2 linked regions of the Homo sapiens genome follow. The protein of the gene in region 1 purifies or fractionates together with the protein of each later gene. This does not show direct contact. Each region holds a gene or a part of one and is shown on either strand. Other genes may lie near its edges.

Region 1 (4,128 bases):
GTGGGGGCAAAAAAAATTTTTTTTTTTTAATTAGAATCTCTCTATAATATGGAGGATGGTGCTGAACACTGTGTATTCACCAAGGCTTAAGGTGACTCTGGTTCAGACCAAAATTTGAGGATCATAGAGGTCATCTACTTTCTGAATCCACATCCTCAGCTTCTTTTATTACCTCTCCTAATGTCTGTGCTTTTCTTGTCAGTTTTACAGATTGCCTCTCCACCTTTGAAAACTGTGTAATTTCTCAGATATTCTTTTCAGTTTAATTCTCCCATTTCTTTTTTAGAAGTTTTAACTTGCCCAGAATAGGAAAATTTATTTGCCTTTGTATTTTCTTTCAGATCTGGAATCAATGTGTGAGACCAAAATATTATCTCTAAAGAAGAGACATTTCAGTCAAGTAATAATTACCCGTGAAGACATGTCTACTTTTATTCAGCCCACATTTCTTATTCCACCTCAAAAAACTATGAGTGAAGAGAAACCATGGGAATGTAAGATATGTGGAAAGACCTTTAATCAAAACTCACAATTTATCCAACATCAGAGAATTCATTTTGGTGAAAAACACTATGAATCTAAGGAGTATGGGAAGTCCTTTAGTCGTGGCTCACTCGTTACTCGACATCAGAGGATTCACACTGGTAAAAAACCCTATGAATGTAAGGAATGTGGCAAGGCTTTTAGTTGTAGTTCATATTTTTCTCAACATCAGAGGATTCACACTGGTGAGAAACCCTATGAATGTAAGGAATGTGGAAAAGCCTTTAAGTATTGCTCAAACCTTAATGATCATCAGAGAATTCACACTGGTGAGAAACCCTATGAATGTAAAGTATGTGGAAAAGCCTTTACTAAAAGTTCACAACTTTTTCTACATCTGAGAATTCATACTGGTGAGAAACCTTATGAATGTAAAGAATGTGGGAAAGCCTTTACTCAACACTCAAGGCTTATTCAGCATCAGAGAATGCATACTGGTGAGAAACCTTATGAATGTAAGCAGTGTGGGAAGGCCTTTAATAGTGCCTCAACACTTACTAACCATCACAGAATTCATGCTGGTGAGAAGCTCTATGAATGTGAAGAATGTAGAAAGGCCTTTATTCAGAGCTCAGAACTTATTCAACATCAGAGAATCCATACAGATGAAAAACCATATGAATGTAATGAATGTGGGAAGGCCTTTAATAAAGGCTCAAATCTTACTCGACATCAGAGAATTCACACTGGTGAGAAACCCTATGACTGTAAGGAATGTGGAAAGGCTTTTGGTAGTCGCTCTGACCTCATTCGCCATGAGGGAATTCATACTGGTTGAATGACAGTAAAGTAAGACCATTTTGTTAACCTTTATAATAATTTTTTTAAAACAGGTAAGGAGAACAAATTAGGATACATATTATCAAAGGTTCTCCTATGTATTCGTTTTTAAACGATACGATAACAAAGTACCAAGTACCAAAACCTTGGTGGCTTAAAACAAGAGAAATTTATTCTCTCATAGTTTAGAGCCTGGAAATCTAAACTCAAGGGTGCTGATCGTTTTGGTTCCTTCTGAGGACTCTGAGGATCTGTTCTATGCCTTTTTCCTAACCTCTGTTAACAGCTGGCAGTCCTTGGCATTCCATGGCTTTTACATACACCATTCCAATCTCTGCCTCCATCTTCACATTGCATTCTCGCTGTGTATCTCTGTGTATGTCTTTTATTTGGACACCAGTCAGGTTAGATTGGGGTTACCTGGTGACCTCATCTTAACTTGATTATATCTGCCAAGACCCTGTTTCCAAGTAAGGTCACATTTACCGGTACCAGGGGTTAGGACTTCAGCATATCTTTTTAGGGGATACAGTTCAACCCATAATACCCTGTTAGAATGATTTTGTCTAATATATTTGTAATTTCCTTTTATACATAAGTTGTTAGTCAAATTTATTTTATTTTATTTTATTTTGAGACAGAGTCTCGCTCTGTTGCCCAGGCTGGAGTGCAGTGGTGTGATCTCAGCTCACTGCAACCTCCAGCTCCTGAGTTCAAGCGATTCTTGTGCCTCAGCCTCTCAAGTAGTTGGGATTACAGGCATGCGCCACCATGCCCGGCTAATTTTTTTTTTTTTTTTTTTTGTATTTTTAGTAGCGACGGGGTTTCACCATGTTGGCCAGGCTGGTCTTGAACTCCTGACTTCAAGTGATCTGCCCGCCTCAGCCTCCCAAAGTGCTGGGATTACAGACGTGAGCCACCGTGATGGCCAAAACAGACTTTATACCAACAAAAATTAAAAAGGACAAAGAAGGTCATTTATAATGATAAAGGATAAATTCAACAAGAAGATAAAACAATCCTAAATATGTATGCACCCAACACTGCAACACCCAGATCCATAACACAGATACTACTAGACCTAAGAAAAGAGATAGACAGCAATACAACAATAGCAGGGGACTTCACCACTCCATTGACAGCACTAGACAGATCACTGGGACAGAAATCAACAAAGAAACTCTGGACTTAAATTGGACTCTACACCAAATGGACCCAACAGACATCTGAAGAACATTCTACCCAACAACCACAGAATATATACTCTTCTCTTCTGTGCATGGAACATTCTCAAAAATAGGTCATATACTGGACCACAAAGCAAGTATCAATAAATTTTAAAAAAACAAAATCATATCTAACATCTTCTCTGACCATAGTGGAATAAAACTAGATATCAATACCAAGAGGAACTCTCAAAACAGATACATGGAATTTAAACAGCTTGCTCCTGAATGATTTTTGGATCAATGATGAAACTAAGGTGGAAATTTAAAATTTTTTGAAATAAATGAAAATAGAGACAAAACACATGAAAACATCTGAGATACAGCAAAAGCAGTGCTAAGAGAGGATTTTATAGCATTAAATGCCTACACCAAAAAGATAGAAAAATCTCAAATGAATAGCCTAACGTCACATCTCAAGGAACTAGGAAAAAACAAAACAAACTCAACCCAAAGCTGGCAGAAGAAAAGCAATAACAAATATCAGAGCAGGCAAAAATGAGACTGAGAACAAAGGAATGCAAAAGATCAATAAAAGAAAAAGTTGGTTCTTTGCAAAGATAAAACTGACAGACCACTAGCTAGATTAACCAAGAAAAAAAGAAGATTCAAATAAATACAATCAGAAATGATAAGGTGATATTATAACTGATAACACAGACATATAAAATATCAGCAGAAACTATATGCACATATTAGAAAACCTAGAGGAAGTGGATAAATTCCTAGAAACACATAACCTTCCAAGATTGAACCAGGGAGAAATAGGAATCCTCAACAGACTACTGAGTATTGAAATTGAATCAGTAATAGAAAAAAATCTTGCAAAAACAAAAAGCCCAGGACCAGACAGATTCACAGCTGAATTCTACTAGACATGCAAGGAAGAACTAGTAACAGCACTATTGAAACTATTCCAAAAATTATAGGAGGGAATCCTCCCTAACTCATTCTACAAAGCCAGTATCATCCTGATACTGAAGCCAGGCAAGGATAAAACACACAAAAAAACTACAAGCCAATATCCCTGATGAAAATAGACACAAAAATCTTCAGCAAAATACTAGCAAACCAAATCAAACAGTACATAAAAAAGATAGTAACAGCACAGTCAAGTGGATTTTATTCCTGGGGTGTAAGGATGGCTCAACATATGCAACTCAATACATGATTCATCACATACACAGAATTAAAAATAAGCCAGGCACTCACACCTGTAATCCCAGCACTTTGCAAGGCCAAGGCGGGCAGATCACATGATGTCAAGAGTTTGAGACCAGTCTGGCTGACATGGCGAAACCCTGTCTCTACTAAAAATAGAAAAATTGGCTGGGCATGGTGGCAGGCACTGTAGTCCCAGCTACTTGGGAGGCTGAGGCAGGAGAATTACTTGAACCTGAGAAGCGGAGGTTGCAGTGAGCTGAGATAGTGCCATTGCACTCCAGCCTGGGCAACAGAGCAAATTGCTTGAATGTGGGAGGTGGAGGTTGCAGTGAGCCGAGATTATGCCATTGCACTCCAGCCGGGGGAGCAACAAAGCCAGACTCCATCTCAAAAAAAAACCAAAAAAAATCCTATT
Region 2 (5,294 bases), on another chromosome or scaffold:
CCATTGGTTAAAAAGGAGGTTTGGATATATACCTAGAAACCAGTGGATAAAGAATATTTCTGGGGGAATCAACAAAACTGGAAATGGTTTCTTTGGGAAAGGGGATCGGGGGTAGGTAGAAGGAGAACAAATGTTTTACCAACTTTTGAACTGTTCTTTTTTTTTAACCATATATCAATTTTTAAAATAATGCCATGTTTCAAGTAATTTAAGATATTCTACGTTAAGACGAGAATCTATATTCTTTTCAGATGGCCCTGCTGTGGCACCAGTGACCAACGGGAACACAACGGTGCCACCCCTGAACGATGATCTGGACATCTTTGGACCGATGATTTCTAATCCCTTACCTGCAACTGTCATGCCCCCAGCTCAGGTATGTGATAAGAATATGGTTTTATATGGTCACTGCTTATTTCCTTTTTGAAAAGTTTCAAAATTTCAATTTTGGAAGAATTGTTTCTGAGCAGTAACTGATTTAAAAGTCTCCTGTTCTTTAGGCTAGAGTTTAGCAAACTAAGCCAGCAGCTTGTTTTTGCAAATAAAGTTTTATTGGCACACAGCCACTCCCACTGGTTTAGGTACTGTATGTGGCTGCTTTCCTGCTACAAAAGCAGAGTTAAATATTAAAAACAGAGAATGTATAGCCCACAAAACCTAAAATATTCACTGTCTTTAAAGTTCTAACCCTTGCTTTAGGGAAACAACAGTATTTAGAATGAACAAGTGGAAAAACCCTGACTACCTCAACTTTCCTGAGATCAACAAGGTCACTTACTTCAGAGCTTTTAAAACTGTGGCTGTTTGTAAATATTGACTGCAGAAGTTCTAGCAAATTTAGTACTGTCTTTTTAAAATAAAGGCAAAATGAAGGTAAATTATGTTTTAAGTTAGCCTTAAAATCTACCTTGCTTTTTTTTTTAAGTGATTTTTTAAAAATCTAGAACAGTAATAATAATGATCGGGATATTTTAATAAAAGTATTAATGGTGAAGAAATTTTGAATTGCCTTCTTAACATTACATGGAATTTTTGTAATGTGAACTGTATGAACTTTCAGGAAACAAACTACTCTTAAGCATACAACATTAAGATTCTATCTTAAGTTTATACTTTACAAATAAACAAGCAGTTTGTGCAGCATAATTTTTGAGATAAAATATTTCCTTTTCCATAGAAAAACTGAGTCAAATCTGAATTGTTCTGGTAGACAGTTTTAATAAGAAAAAGTCAATGTCTTATAAGGCTAGGAACATATTTCTGTTGCACATATTTATTGTTATTATGATAGTCATTATATAGTTACCATTAGAATGGAACAAGTAGATTTCTTAGGAATGATTAAATGGATCTTTATCAAAATTGTCTGCAGCAGTAGTGTTTATTTTCAGCAAAATAGCTTATTTTATGGCTTTGCCCCTTCTTCCCCTCCTGTAACACACATAAAAAAGAGAATATTGTTACTGTTATTTCAATTAAGATTAATTACCTTACAAATTGGTACAGGCATAGGTGTACATGTGACAAAATTGTCTAATATTGTGTCTTTGGAAAGAAGCATTTAGGATATTTGACAACCAGAATGTGAAAAGCCATTTATTTTTAGTCTAGCATTGTAGTGCGGCTGTTATACCTGCTAGACTTATTTAGCACTGTCACTGGGGTCTGACAGTTGCTTTGCAACTGCTTAAGAGAGTTAGATCCCACCTCTGAGGTTTCAGTGTACTTCACGTGTTCTGTTCTGTATTAAAGCAGCAAGTAGAACAATGCAGACTTCGTTTAATTCTTAAGCACAAGTAGTGCCATGACAAGGAGTGTAGCCTCTGGCTTTAAGAGGGGTGGCAGCTGGCCTTCAGACTTTAGGCATTCTGAGCATTACCTGGTAGGACATAGGGTTAATTTTTAAAATCATATCTAATACTTCTTTTGGAACACTGTTATGTTGAGCACTGGTTAGACTGTACAAGTTATGTTGAGCCCTGTAAAATATTTGGTGAACAGTAGTATCTTTCGTCTAAACTTCATGTAGAGATTAAAATCCAGACATATTTGGCCAGGTATGGTGGTTCATGCCTGTAATCCCAGCACTTTGGGAGGCTGAGGTGGGTGGATCACCTGAGGCCAGGAGTTCAACACCAGCCTGGCCAACATGGTGAAACCCCATCTCTCCTTAAAATACAAAAATTAGCTGGGCGTGGTGGCGTGCGCCTGTAATCCCAGTTACTCGGGAGGCTGAGGCAGGAGAATTGCTTGAACCCGGGAGGCAGAGGTTGCAGTGAGCGGAGATCACGCCATTGCACTCCAGCCTGGGGGACAAGAGTGAGACTTCGTCTGGAAAAAAAAAAAAATCCAGACATATTTTCAAAATAATGCCTTTGAAAATGGGGGATGGTGCTGAAACTACAGATTCTATGCATATATTGCTACCATGTAATTTAGTCATTTTGGTGGGTTTTTAATATGTGAAGTTGAGCTCAAACTAGTTGTGGACACCAAGATTTTGAATTCTTCTGAACCCTGTATTCTTTCACTCCTTGTGTTATTTTCTGAGTATATACAAATTCTAGTACAATATTTTCTAACTTATGAATATGAAATAGATTGATTTTACCATCTGCCTTACCTGTCTGGGGTCTAGTCTTTCTTAAAGGGGTTAGTTAGAAATACTTAGCTGACAGGAGTGTACCTGTGTTTTGGGGGCTGGAGAGGAACAGTTCCAGAGTCTTCATTGTTGACATGGAGAAACCCCTTTCCTGTTCTTTCATATACATATACATATACATATACATATACATATACATATACATATACATATACATATACCAACAGTACCTAGACATACACAAGGGCTAAGTCCTGTTTTTTCTTGGTTAAGCCCTTGGGTCCCAGAAGGCCAGAGAGCCTTCGATTAGATGCTCTGCAGCTTCCTGAAGTGTAAAATGAGAGGCAGAAGTTGTTTCCCTTTTATCCTGGGGTCGTAGTGCTGGCGAGTGGAGCACCAGAAAGTAAGTGGACATTTGAGTGCTTACTAGTCCTGCTGATTGGTTTGGCTGTTTTTAGACTGTGTCCTTGTTGAGGTAGATATTTCATATTATGATGTTTACAGTATGTGAATATTAGGCTGCTCTACTATGAGAGTGGAATCATAGCTTCCCAACATTTTGGGTTTTCTTATAGTTGTCTCTTATCCACAGGGAATAGACCCCAGGGTTTTCAGCAGACTTTTAGGTTGAACAGATACTAAGTGTGATAAAAAGATCACTTAGTGATGTAGTTGCTTTGTTTTATAAACAATATTAACAATAAACACCAAGTACTTAATCCAACCATTGTGCAGAACACTTTTGTGATCATTAAGCTTATCCCAAGTTTATAGGAGAGAGACTGAAAGGAGAAGTAAAGTAACATGTCTGAGTGTACCACAGAAAGTCATGGGGGCAGGCTCTAGTCCTGGCAGACAGGCTCCAGCCCATGCTCTTAGCTCTATGATCTGCTGCTGCTTCATTGGTAGCTTAGATATATTTTATTCAGGGGTATTGTGATATTTAGTATTCCATGATATCTAATTTCTTACATATTTGAATTTTTGGAAAATTAAGCGGCTTTTTGTCGCTTACAATTCTTGCTTAGTCATAAGATTCAAAATACTGTGTAGTTTATAAGTACAATGTTTGGATGGTAACTTATTGCATGGTGTTCTAGGAGGACATTAAATGTTTGAATTTAATTTCCACTTGCAACTCACCTTATTCTGTAGTTTGAGAAGGATCAGCCAGCTTTTACTAGTCTTCATAGAATTCTTTGAAACTCTCTTCATATTCAAAACAAGTCCATATAACATGTGAATGTGATTTAATGTTTAGTGACTACGGAGATGATTAAGGTTAGCAGTTGTGATTGTATAATAGTGTGTGCAAGATATGAGATTGAGAATATTTTATATTAAATATCTACATGTTTATTTGTATTTGTGTTCATTTGCCCCCTTGTCCAAAAGTGAAGGGCAGGATATGTTCAGACAATAGATGGTCAAAGTTTTGCTGTACCTTCATTTCTGGATAGATTAGAAGCAGTCTAATATTGTAGTTAAAACTGATTAGATGTATAAAAATCCTATGATACAGGTTTTGAAAAGATAAAACCTTTTAAGTAGCCATTGCAAATCCTCTTACAGTCTGTTGTAGTTGTAGAAATGTTCTTTATTCCAAAGGATACCAGTTTCTTGAAGCAGTAGTTGCTATGGAGTGGTGGTCCTCTCATCTCTAACTATTGTTGAGCCCCAGGATTTGATGAGCAAAAACTTGGTGTCACCTTAGGTAGTAAATGCAACTTACTGTGAAAATGCTTCAGTCTACCTACATTAACAGATTCAAATTAAGAAGTACTGTCTTGATTGTAGATGTTTTTATATGGGCTTGGGCTTGTAAGTGATCCTCTTGAATGGCACCATTTTACCTTCTACAATTGTTTGATTCCTATCTAATTTTATAACTTTATTTGGATTTTAAGTAATGGATAAGCTGCGCTTTACTATGCAGAATTTGATAGCTTATTTTGGTGTTTGTCTCAGGGGACACCCTCTGCACCAGCAGCTGCAACCCTGTCTACAGTAACATCTGGGGATCTAGATTTATTCACTGAGCAAACTACAAAATCAGAAGAAGTGGCAAAGAAACAACTTTCCAAAGACTCCATCTTATCTCTGTATGGCACAGGAACCATTCAACAGCAAAGTACTCCTGGTAATGAATTTTGATATCTGCTTTCAGTGACATTACTAGAAGTACATCCTTTGTAATTATATAATAAGATCAATTATATATCTTTTATTGTTCCATGTAGTGAGTGCTTTTGTTGTTGCAGTTTATACAACTATGAAGCCGAAATGAATGAGCATTAGAATTAAAAAATTAAGAGGCATGTACAGGATTCACAGAACTTTATTTGGAATTAACAAGCTGTTCATAGATCACTAAATGTTGTTTCACAAGCTTATAGAACATGGATTATCTTTGATGAATTATTGAAACGATTTGCATGAAGTTTATGACTGCGTACAGTGTATTTTCTCTGCAGGTAAACAGTCTTGAGTTACCACATGGATTAAAAAAAATCTATGAATTTTTTTGTAATCATAACAAAATATTAGCATAAGCCTTATTGTTTACAGAGTTTTAATCTTTCACACCATTTCCTTTAAAATAATGAGCTGCATTTCACATGTGAGCTAAAATTGTTGGGCAGCCCACTACACCTATTGAAGCGAGATATAGTCAGCTCTCACTTCCCTGTTT

Evidence for each region. The genes of interacting proteins can lie anywhere in the genome.
Region 2: the proteins of ZNF829 (region 1) and SMAP1 purify together in Homo sapiens (affinity purification with mass spectrometry; one large-scale study listed by BioGRID and IntAct). This does not show direct contact.

What each region holds. Positions count from the first base shown.
Region 1 is NC_000019.10:36,888,685-36,892,812, reverse strand, and holds part of ZNF829 (zinc finger protein 829), read left to right. Parts: intron 1-341; coding exon 342-1,321; 3' UTR 1,322-4,128. UniProt on the Homo sapiens protein: May be involved in transcriptional regulation.
Region 2 is NC_000006.12:70,852,289-70,857,582, forward strand, and holds part of SMAP1 (stromal membrane-associated protein 1), read left to right. Parts: intron 1-251; coding exon 252-376; intron 377-4,390; exon of another isoform or gene 4,391-4,570; coding exon 4,571-4,742; exon of another isoform or gene 4,743-5,294. UniProt on the Homo sapiens protein: GTPase activating protein that acts on ARF6. Plays a role in clathrin-dependent endocytosis. May play a role in erythropoiesis.